3 linked regions of the Homo sapiens genome follow. The protein of the gene in region 1 purifies or fractionates together with the protein of each later gene. This does not show direct contact. Each region holds a gene or a part of one and is shown in the gene's direction. Other genes may lie near its edges. The genes, in order: SMYD5, ZNF430 and TUB.

Region 1 (4,342 bases):
GTTTCAAGAGCCTCTTCTCTGGCCCTGCCAACTATCTATCTCCCCCAAGTCCGTGGACTATTCGCTCCTTGACACCAGGTTGCAAGCTTGAGGAGAGGCAGGGTCAGTTTCAAGAACCTTTCTCTGTCCCTGCCAACTATCTATCTATCTATAATTATTTGATAGATAATTGTGGCTTGATCACGGCTCATTGCAGTCTAGACCTCCCCAGGTTCAGGTGATCCTCCCACGCATCACCACGCCCGGCAAATTTTTCTATTTTTTGGAGAGACAAGGTCTCACTACGTTGCCCAGTCTGTTCTTGAGCCCGGGAGCTGGAGGCTGCCGTGAGCCGAGATCGCCCCATGCCAGTATGGGCGACAAAGCGAGACCCTGTCTCAAACAAAACTCACAAAATCAGGGGACAAGGAAACAAAACAAGGCTTGATAGTCAGGCCTAGCTGTGGGGACAAATGCCATAGGTCTGTGGTTTGCAGCTTCTTGGGGTCCTGAGAGAACAGGCCCCTCCCCCTTTTCACGACAGTGTGTGCATATGCACACTCACTTCTGTATCCAGTTTCAGAGGTTCTCAGATCTGAGGTCCCCTATGGACTCCTCCGCTACCCCCGGTTGCAAGGTCCCTAAGCCATTGAAGAATCTGACAGAGGCACAAGTCCACCCTGACCTTTGGCAGGACTGTTCTGCTGCCAGAGGGATTACCGAGAAAGGAAATCTTGTCCTGGACTCTTCAAGTGGGGTGAGTGAGCTCCGGGGTATAAGCTAGTCCTTCCCTTCAGGCTGAGAGCTAGACAGGATAGGAGTAAGTTGGCCTTCTGCTGTCCCACTCTAGGGCTGGGTCCAAAGAGCGCTTTACTCAGTGAAGACAGGCCACTGTGTGGACAGAGACAACATACATAGAAACATGCATCGGAGGCCGGGCGAGGTGGCTCACGCCTGTAATCCCAACACTTTAGGAGGTCGAGGCGGGCGGATCACTTGAGGTCAGGAGTTCGAGACCAGCCTGGCCAACATGGTGAAACCCCTAAAAATACAAAAATTAGCTGGGCTTAGTGGCGCACGCCTGTACGCCCAGCTACTCGGGAGGCTGAGGCAGGAGAATGAATCACTTGAACCTGGGAGGCAGAGGTTGCACTGAGCCGAGATCGCGCCACTGCACACCAGCCTGGGCGACAGAGTGAGACTATCTCAAAAAAAAAAAACCACAACAAAACATGCAACGGACTCAAAGATACACACATCAAAACTGTACGCGCACACAGACTCTGATACAGAGGTACAGACACAAAAAGGCACCGATGTAAAAGCACAAAGGCAGGCCCAGTTACACTCCCGTCAACAAACCACGGAACCTAAATTCAGACTTGGTGGAGCCCAAAACCTCGCAGCCTCAGGGGCACTCTCGCCGGGGGCGGGACCAGAAGGGGGTGTGGCCTCTCAGGTCGAGGCGGGGTTAAGGGTCATAAGGCGGAGGCGCGCCCAAGATGGCGGCCTCCATGTGCGACGTGTTCTCCTTCTGCGTGGGCGTGGCGGGCCGCGCGCGGGTCTCCGTGGAAGTCCGTTTCGTGAGCAGCGCCAAGGTGAGGTCGGGGCGGGTCCTGCCGGGAGCCTCTCCCCAGTCCGGCCATGGAGACAGCCCGGCCGGACTCCATGCCCGGAGCCCAGAGGCTTCTGTGCCGCTCGGACGCTACGGCCCTGCCCCTGCTCGCGGCCCGGGGGCTCCCAGTCTGTCCCTGCGCGCAGGCTCGTGGCGCGGTCACGCGATAGACCCGGGCCTCCGGAGTCTCCGTGCGCATTTCCTCCCAGCGGAATTCGGCCAGCCCGCGGGAGGCCCTTCTGTGGCTGCTCGGGGCGGGGCTAGGGGGCTTTGCTGCTGTATCCCTGGAACGGTGGGCGGGGATGTGCCGGGCAGAGAGAACTGAGGTGTAAAAGAGGGAGTCCTCACGAACTTCATGTGTGAGATTTGGGTGAGGGGATGAGGAGAGAGGCCAAGATCCTTCACGAGGGTCCTTGGAGTGCTGAGGAATTTGGACCAGAGTCCAAAGGCCGTGGGGGCATTGGGAGAGTTTTTAGCAGGAAGGTGACGTGATTTTGTCGTTTTTATTGTGTTCCAAAAGTTCATTGTAGAAAAAAATACAAAATGCATGTAAGGAAAGAAAATACAAAAATCACCCATACTTCTATACTTGTGCAAAGATGAGTACGTTAAAATTACATTTTTAGAAACTGCTTTTTGATGCAGCAGTGAATCTTTCAATATCAAGCCTATTTCTACATATTAAGTTTTAAGAGCTGAGTAGTAGCTTCTTCCGTGAGAGGGTCACAGTTCACTCAACCAACCCCTTATTAATGGACCCTTTATTGTTGTATGGTATTTTTCATCCCCAGAGTCAAAAGTCTTAGAGCTCATTTTCTGTGCAAACATCCTCTTGTTTTGTCCAGCAGTATTTTTTTCCTAGTTATCTTTGCCTATTGATATGTGTAAAATTATATTTGTTCTCATTTACGTTTCTTTGGTTACTAGTGAGGTTGAATAATTTATCCTGTGTAGTGGCTGTGTGTATGGTTGGTTCTTGCCCAAGACGTAAGACCTCTAGTTGTCTGTTGTCTGCTCTCAGCGTCATCATATTGATCTAGTTTTCCAGCTCAACCTTCCGTGCCCCCTTTCTGCTCTAGAGGTATCTGGAGCAGTTTGCTCCTTCCCTGGTAAATCAGCTTCCCTACATCCCTGGTCTCCTTACCTGTTCCTATCTCCATCTCCATAGTCTCTAGTGCTCCTGGGTGGCCACAGTTTGAAGGCCTCTCAGTTCCATCATTCTTGGTTTGCAGTGATATTCTTCACCTTTTTCTTCATTAGCCCCCAGTCTCTCAGCCCCTTCCTTTCTTCATTTCTTCCCTCTCGCTTCTTCACTTCAGCCACTCTCCTTGCACAGTTTTCCTGTCCCAGGCTTCTATCAAGGCCCTAGCTGATTGCCCTCTCCTTGCCTACATCTGATCTGCTGCTGGAGAAAATAACATACCTGCCTGGACTTGGTAACAGCATGGATTATCCTGGGCTTTTTGCTTCTCTATTCAAATGAGATTGGTTTGTGATTTTTTTCTCTGTGTTATTTTCCTCAAGTTGCCACATGAGGGTTATACTTGTTTTTTTTTGGTAAAACAGAAATGCTTTCTGTCATTACATTGTTTAAATAGCATGAGCATTATTTATTCTTTAAAGGTTTGAGAGAATTGGGTCATGAAACTATATAGACCAGGGGCCTCAAGTGGGAGTAGTTTTTGACTACTGTTTATTGCTTCTGTGGATAGGAATGACTTTTCAAAAATTTATCAACTATTATGCCAGAGACATGACCAGTCAGAACAGAAACCTCACCAGGTCCAGTGGAAGCCAGCTGGATTACCATACTGGTGCACTAGCCGGATAGCAGCATGGCTTATTGTGGGCTTTCTTCTTTTAATCAAGATTTTAAAATCTACTACATAGTCTGCCCGGGCATGGTGGCTCATTCCTTTAATTCCAGCGCTTTCGGAGGCCAAGGTGGGCTGATCACTTGAGATCAGGAGTTCAAGACCAGTCTGGCCAACATGGTGAAACCCTGTCTCTACTAAAAATACAAAAATTAGGCCTGGCGTGGTGGCTCACACCTGTAATCCCAGCACTTTGGGAGGCCGAGAGGGGCGGATCACTTGAACTTGATGTCAGGAGTTCGAGACCAGCCTGACCAACATGGTGAAACCCCATCTGTACTAAAAATACAAAAATTAGTCGGGCGTGGTGGTGCACACCTGTAATCCCAGCTACCTGAGGGCCAGGCACGAGAATTGCTTGAACCCAGGAGGCAGAAGTTGCAGTGAGCTGAGGTCGTGCTACTGCACTCCAGCCTGGGCGACAGAGGGAGACTCCATCTCAACAACAACAACAAAAATCTATTACATAGTCTTAAGAGTTTTGCACTATTTTTTTTTATAGAGATGGGGTCTTGCTGTGTTGCCCAGGCTGGTCTCAAACTCCTGGGCTCAAGCGATCCTTCATCCTTGCTTCCCAAAGTGCTAGATTTACAGTGTGAGCCACCATACCCGGCCTGCACGATTTTTTCTTAAAACTTTTTTTTCAAATTGGAAGTATGTATGGTTTGTCCCCTTTCCATTCAGGTTCAGTGCTCTCCAACCTTCTTTTTTTTTTTGAGATGGAGTCTTACTCTGTTGCCCAGGCTATAGTGCAGTAGTACAATCTTGGCTCACTGCAACCTCCGCCTCCTGGGTTCAAGCGATTCTCCTGCCTCAGCCTTCCGAGTAGCTGGGACTACAGGTGAACACCACCATGTCCAGCTAATTTTTGTAT
Region 2 (3,647 bases), on another chromosome or scaffold:
TTTTTGTTCTTACCCTCATTTTTCTGATTTTCTGTAGTTCTCTATGTTTCTGTGTCACTCACTGAGTATTATTCAATTTGTTTTCAATTTTTAAAATTAATATATACATTTTTTATGGTTTCTCTCTGAAACTTTTATATTTTTGATAAAACCATATTGCCTTATTTTGTATACATTGTAATCTTTGATTGAAATTTGTACATTTAAAAAAGCTACCTGTCACAATCCTTATAATGTAGCTTTGTCCTGGCATAGTCTGGACAATTGTCTTGATTAGAGATACTGGGAGTCTCTCAAACATGTTGCTAGAATGTGTCTTGTCTACAATTTTGTGTTTATTTTTTAATTAAAAGAGTTTGTGTTTCTTCTTTTTTTAGTTTTTTTTTTTGTTTGTTTTTTGTTTTTTTGTCAGACGGGGTCTTGCTCTGTCTCCCAGACTGGAGTGCAGTGGCGCAATCTCGGCTCACTGCACCCTCCGCCACCTGGGTTCAAGTGATTCTCCTGCCTCAGCCTCCCAAGTAGCTGGGAATACAGGTGTACGCTATCACACCTGGCTAACTTTTCTTTTGTTTTTTTAGTAGAGATGGAGTTTCACCATGTTGGCCAGGCTGGTCTCAAACTTGTGACCTCAAGTGATCCGCCAGCCTTGGCCTCCCAAAGTACTGGAATTACAGGCATGAACCACCACAACTGGCCTTTTTTTGTTTCTTCTTAATAGTAATAACTTGCTACACCTGTTTTCTGTGTGTGGCACTGCAGTCTCTCTGCTGCTGTAACATTTAGCTTTGGTCTCAGCAGACTTAAACTGTCATTCCAAAGTATACCACCATTTCTTTCAGCACTAGATGTCATAGGAGACAGAAACCAGTGTATAGATAGGTCCCTAGAAGCAAGTAATAAAGATGTATGTGGCAGTATTTTAATTGTCTTTTAAAAAAGAAACCAAAAGTTGGCAGTGGGGAGCAGGAAGAGCTGTGTTGGGTAAATTTAACAGACTTTTCTTTTTCTTCTGTGTCACTCTCTATGTTGTGCTCAGCTGGGGCACTTCACACACTTAACTTATTTATAAATTTTCCTCAGATGTATTTTTGTTGGATGTTTTTGTTACATTTACATGTCTGTAAAAAATTAGGGCCTTTGGGCCAGGCGCGGTGGCTGGTGTGCCAAAGTGCGGTAATCCCAGCACTTTGGGAGGCTGAAGTGGACGCATCATCTGAGGTCAGGAGTTCGAGACCAGACTGGCCAACATGGCGAAACCCCATCTCTACTAAAAATACAAAAATTAGCTGTGCGTGGTGGTGCGTGCCTGTAATCCCAGCTACTTTGGAGGCTGGGGCAGGAGAATAGCTTGAGCCTGGGTGGCGGAGGTGGCAGTGAGCAGAGATCACGCCATTGCACTCCATCCTGGGCTACAGAATGAGACTCTGTCTAAAAAAAAAAAAAAATTAGGGCCTTTATTATTTTGCTATGCCATCTTGTTTATGTAGTTTGTATAATTATATGGGTTAGATTTGTAAAGCATATTCATCTGAGTCTAGTAAATGGAGTAATTTGTTATTTTTATTTCTTTCAGTTACATATTCTCATTTTGCCCAAGACCTTTGGCCAGAGCAGGGCATAAAAGATTCTTTCCAAGAAGTCATATTGAGAAGATATGGAAAATGTGGACATGAAGATTTACAGTTAAGAACAGGCTGTAAAAGTGTGGATGAGTGTAATCTGCACAAAGAATGTTATGATGAACTAAACCAGTGTTTGACAACTACCCAGAGTGAAATATTTCAATATGATAAATATGTGAATGTCTTTTATAAATTTTCAAATCCAAATATACAAAAGATAAGACATACTGGAAAGAAGCCTTTCAAATGTAAAAAATGTGACAAATCGTTTTGCATGCTTTTACACCTAACTCAACATAAAAGAATTCATATTAGGGAAAATTCTTACCAATGTGAAGAATGTGGTAAAGTCTTTAACTGGTTCTCAACCCTTACTAGACACAGAAGAATTCATACTGGAGAGAAACCCTACAAATGTGAACAATGTGGCAAAGCTTTTAAGCAGTCCTCAACCCTTACTACACATAAGATAATTCATACTGGAGAGAAACCCTACAGATGTGAAGAATGTGGCAAAACCTTTAACCGGTCCTCACACCTTACTACACATAAAAGAATTCATACTGGAGAGAAACCCTACAGATGTGAAGAATGTGGCAGAGCTTTTAACCGGTCCTCACACCTTACTACACATAAGATTATTCATACTGGAGAGAAACCCTACAAATGTGAAGAATGTGGCAAAGCTTTTAACCAATCCTCAACCCTTACTACACATAAGATAATTCATGCTGGAGAGAAACCTTACAAATGTGAAGAATGTGGCAAAGCTTTTTACCGATTCTCATACCTTACTAAACATAAGATAATTCATACTGGAGAGAAATTCTACAAATGTGAAGAATGTGGCAAAGGCTTTAATTGGTCCTCGACCCTTACTAAACATAAAAGAATTCATACTGGAGAGAAACCCTACAAATGTGAACAATGTGGCAAAGCTTTTAATGAGTCCTCAAACCTTACTGCACATAAGATAATTCATACTGGAGAGAAACCCTACAAATGTGAAGAATGTGGCAAAGCCTTTAACCGGTCCCCAAAACTTACTGCACATAAGGTAATTCATTCTGGAGAGAAACCCTACAAATGTGAAGAATGTGGCAAAGCTTTTAACCAATTCTCAAACCTTACTAAACATAAGATAACTCATATTGGAGATACATCTTACAAATACCTAGAATGTGATAAAGCCTTTAGCCAGTCTTCAACTCTTACTAAACATAAGGTAATTCATACTGGAGAGAAACCCTACAACTGTGAAGAATACGGCAAAGCTTTCAACCAGTCCTCAAACCTTATTGAACAAAGTAATTCATACTGGAGAGAAACCCTACAAATGTGAAGATTGTGGCAAAGCCTCTAACCCGTCCTGAATTCTTACTAAACATAAGAACATTCATACTGAAGAGGAACCCTATGAGTGTGAAGAATATGGCAAAGCCTTCAACAAGTCCTCAATTCTTACCAGACATAAGATAATTCTGGCTGGGTGCGGTGGCTCACACCTGTAATCCCAGCACTTTGGGAGGCTGAGACGGGTGAATTACATGAGGTTGGGAGTTCGAGACCAGCCTGACCAACATGGTGAAATCCTGTCTCTACTAAAAATACAAAATTAGCCATGCGTAGTGGTGCATGCCTGTAATCCCAGCTACTCGGGAGGCTGAGGCAGGAGAATTGCTTGAACCCGGGAGGCAGAGGTTGAAGTGAGCTGAGATCGCGCCATTGCACTCCAGCCTGGGCAACAAGAGTGGCACTCCATCTCAGAAAAAAAAAAAAAAGATAATTCATACTGAAAAGAAACTCTACAAACTTGAAAGATGTGACAGTGCTTTTGACAACACCTAAAACTTTTAAACATAAAAAATCATACTGGTGAGAAATCCTAGAAATGTAAAGAATGTGACAAGGCCTTTAAATGGTTGTCACACTTCATTATAGGTAAGATAGTTCATACTGAAGAAAACTTCTACAAGTGTGAACAGTGTGGCAAAACTTTTAATGAATGCTCACACCTTATTGCAC
Region 3 (3,647 bases), on another chromosome or scaffold:
GTATGCACTGTGCGTGTGGCTGACCACGGGGGACACTGGTGTTCGGGTCTGACCCTTTCAAGTCCGTCTGTGGGCAAATGCTTTGACTTTGCTTATTCAGTCAGGCTGTTGGCTTGAGCTGTAGAGATGGGAGGGTTGTAGCCTCTCAGGCCTGGCAGGGCCCTCAGGCATTTTGCGCTCTGGTCCTGAACCCTTTCTTCAGAAGTCTTCACTGCAGTCCTCCAGCCTGGGTGTGTGCCTTCCACAATGGGATGCCCAGCCTCTCAGCCAGCTGGAATATTTAGGGACCTGGTTGCATCCTGTGGTCCTGGCAATGCCCTCAGGGAGCCCCAAATGCAGCTGTGCCCTCTTAGGCAGATGGGCTGTTTCAAGAAGACCAAGGCCTAGAAGTATGGCTCTTGAGCGGTGTTTTCTCCTGTGCTCTGGCAGCTGAGGGTTTGGTGAATGAGGCTGTTGTGCACACAGCCCCAGATCACAGCTGGGGCTCCTCTGACATGCAGAGCAGCTCGTGGGTACAAGGAAAGACCTTCCCAGATGTCAAGTAGGCAGGACACCTGCTAGTTAAAAAACATGCATAGTCCTCATAGATCGTGGCCAAGGTGGTGGGCAGTCTGTGTTATGGGGGCTTCCTTCTACCCTCTGACTGGCTCCCTTGGAGGTGCAAGTAGTTGAAGGCTCATGTAGGTGGTCAATGATTGTTCCAGCTAGAAAGGGCTAGCCATCAGGAGGAGGTGAAAGTGGCTTCACTTTGTCCTCAGGGTGATGTGACCTCCTGTTTCCCCTTTGCACGCACACTGCGCTCACCTTCACACGAGCACACCCACTTCTTCACAGGTGTCTGCATGCACATGTGCACACACATGAGATATTCACACACTTCCTTATGGCCTCACACAAACCTAATGCACTCGGGCACGCCTGTGCAGGAACCTGGACACAGTCTGGTTCAGGGGCAGCTTCAGAATAACTGGGCCAGGGCCGCCTGGGGCTTCCCCAGAGCTCAGATCCTCAGGCTCCAACCTCACCTCATGCAGCTGTCCACACCTTGGCCTTTATAGCATTTGGGCCTAGGTCTCATGCATGTGTCTCTGGCTAGCAAAAAGCTAAGTGATTTGAGTTACCAGTTCCCTACTTGTGCCCTGCCTTCCTCAGAGGCATGGCCAGTGCGGGTGAGATGAGGCTCCCTGTCCCAAGACTGGTGGGGCTCAAGAATTTGATGTCCCCAGGGCTGCCTGTGCCATGTCTGCAGCCCGGGAAGGACCTGGTAGCTGGTTGCTGGGCTGTACATTGATGTGTTGTGTCCACCCTGCAGACACCTCTGTGTGGCCCAAACCCTGTAGGCTGAGGGACTGGTTGGTCTCTTAGCTTCATTCTCTCAAATGAGAAGGAGGACCCTCTGCCCTCTTTAAGTGGGGAAGGGGAGTAGACAAAGTCAGGACTCTACTCTGCCCACCTGGAAAGCTAGGAGTTTGCTTTCAACGGATGGGGAAAGGGTCTGCCCCAGAGGACGCAGCCTCCTCTAGAATGGTGGGAAGGAAGGAAAAGGCTGGGGCTGGTGAGATCCCAGTAGGGAGCTGGAGGGAGCAGCCCCCTGGGTTTGTTTGAAGCCTGGCCTCGGGCCTGGCTTGTTGCTGGGATGCCTCTGGATAGTTCTCTTGGATCTCAGTCAGGCCCGGCCCTGCTCAGGGATCTGAGGGGAGGGTCTCATCCGGTATTTACTGGGGAGTCCCTGGGGAAACAGGGGTCCTAGCAGGCTTCCAAAGTGGCAGCTCGAGCCCTTTTGGTTCAAGCTGGTTTCAAGATGGCAGGCTCCACCCTTCCTCCTTCTACCATGTGGGCTCACTGAGTCCCAGCAGCCGTGATGGGATGGGTTTAACGGGCCCAGATATGCTGGGGGTGGGCTCTGGGCTGTATATCCTGGCACCTCACGGGCAAGCCCTGAAAACCCCTCTTTCGCTCTGCAGTGTCTTAGATGATGAGGGCAGAAACCTGAGGCAGCAGAAGCTTGATCGGCAGGTGAGTAGGCCTGGGGCCGGGTAGAAGGGAAGAGTCTGGGCTGGGATCTCTGAGGGCAGAGGGGCAGGGCTGTCCATCTTCCCTGGATGATCCCGTCTGATTGGGGGATGGGATTCCCATGTGGAAGAAGAGAGGTGCACTCTCTCCCAGCTCAGCACTAACCCTGCCGCGGCACATGGGCTCCTGCCTTCAGGCAGCTGGGTGACTGCAGTTGGAGGGCTGGCTGTGCTGTGATCCTGCCAGGGCAGCCACCTGGGCCCTGTTTTGCCTCCCTTTCCTGGACCCCAAGTGTTGGGGTGCCAAGGACATGGGGCCTTGGCCCAAGGTGGGCTGTGGACCCCCCGATAACTGGGAGCCCGCCCTTCCTGGTGGAGGCAGTGGGTCAGCCAACCTCTGTGCCTCCATAGCGGGCCCTGCTGGAGCAGAAGCAGAAGAAGAAGCGCCAGGAGCCCCTGATGGTGCAGGCCAATGCAGATGGGCGGCCCCGGAGCCGGCGGGCCCGGCAGTCAGAGGAACAAGCCCCCCTGGTGGAGTCCTACCTCAGCAGCAGTGGCAGCACCAGCTACCAAGGTATACCTTGCCTGCTGCCCCACATCCCGTCACTGCTTCGGGGAGCCCGTCACTTCCTGCCCACCTAGGCAGGTGCGGACTGGTCCTGACGGGGGATGCCCAGGCTGTGTATGGCTTCCAGCCCAGGCAGACAGCTGAGTAGGGAGGGCAGAGGGAAGGTGGACCTGTAGCCTTGGGCGCCTGTGTATGCTCCAGCTGACACCTCCTGAATCAGGCACTGAGGCCAGAAGCCTAAACCTTTTATGAGGCCAGGAGTTCAGAAGTCCAAGTTTTGATCTGGAGCATTTCACTGAGTGCAGGAGGTAGCTTCTAAGAGTAGATGACCTGCTCCCCACCAGTATTCTACATTCTGAGAGGAATCCGTCTCACTGTCCTGCCCCATATCAACCAGTGTCTCAGTACAAACACCTTTTTCCTTCCCTCTCTGCACCGTGTCTGCCTGGCTTCTGACTTGCAGATCCCTCTCTCTGGCTCACAACTCCTTAAGAGCTGTAGTGACCTGGAGCCTGCAGCTCCCATCCTTAAATGTTCCAGGTCTCGGCAGAGCCCAGTTGGGAGAAATTCTCTGCAGCTCATCCTGGAGAGAGCACATCTCCAGAGATGGCTGCAGCACATCTCTGTTCTCAGGACCCTCCTTCCTGCTTGGGTTAGGTGAAGAGTAGGCCAGGCCAGACTGAGGGGTTGGGGGTCTCTGAGCTTGAAAGGAGGACTCAGACTCAGTCTCCACTGCCCCCTGCTGGTGCTAGTAATCCAGGCTGCTACTTCATCAAATAGTAATTCTAAAAAGGTTGCAGGCATCTGGCTTTTGCGGTTAGGAAGAACCTTAGCAGTCGTGGTGCTCCCCTCCTTCTGTGGCTTCGTTATGACCTGGAGCCTCCAGATACATCGAACTACTGGTAGTTGCCTCACCTCAGGGCTGAGCTTCTTCATCTAACTGCTGGCCCATACCCTGCCTCGCAGTATTTTAGGTTCTTCTCTGGGTTCCACTGACCCATAGCTCCCTGAGCCCTTTGTCTGCACATTGGAGGGCAGCAGGTGGGTCTCACTTGCCTGGTGCCCAG

The links.
Region 2: the proteins of SMYD5 (region 1) and ZNF430 purify together in Homo sapiens (affinity purification with mass spectrometry; one large-scale study listed by BioGRID and IntAct). This does not show direct contact.
Region 3: the proteins of SMYD5 (region 1) and TUB purify together in Homo sapiens (affinity purification with mass spectrometry; one large-scale study listed by BioGRID and IntAct). This does not show direct contact.

What each region holds. Positions count from the first base shown.
Region 1 is NC_000002.12:73,212,786-73,217,127, forward strand, and holds the start of SMYD5 (protein-lysine N-trimethyltransferase SMYD5), read left to right. Parts: upstream 1-1,459; 5' UTR 1,460-1,481; coding exon 1,482-1,577; intron 1,578-4,342. UniProt on the Homo sapiens protein: Protein-lysine N-trimethyltransferase that specifically catalyzes trimethylation of 'Lys-22' of the RPL40/eL40 subunit of the 60S ribosome, thereby promoting translation elongation and protein synthesis.
Region 2 is NC_000019.10:21,055,058-21,058,704, forward strand, and holds part of ZNF430 (zinc finger protein 430), read left to right. Parts: intron 1-1,573; coding exon 1,574-2,964; 3' UTR 2,965-3,647. UniProt on the Homo sapiens protein: May be involved in transcriptional regulation.
Region 3 is NC_000011.10:8,087,646-8,091,292, forward strand, and holds part of TUB (tubby protein homolog), read left to right. Parts: intron 1-1,964; coding exon 1,965-2,016; intron 2,017-2,423; coding exon 2,424-2,586; intron 2,587-3,647. UniProt on the Homo sapiens protein: Functions in signal transduction from heterotrimeric G protein-coupled receptors. Binds to membranes containing phosphatidylinositol 4,5-bisphosphate. Can bind DNA (in vitro). May contribute to the regulation of transcription in the nucleus.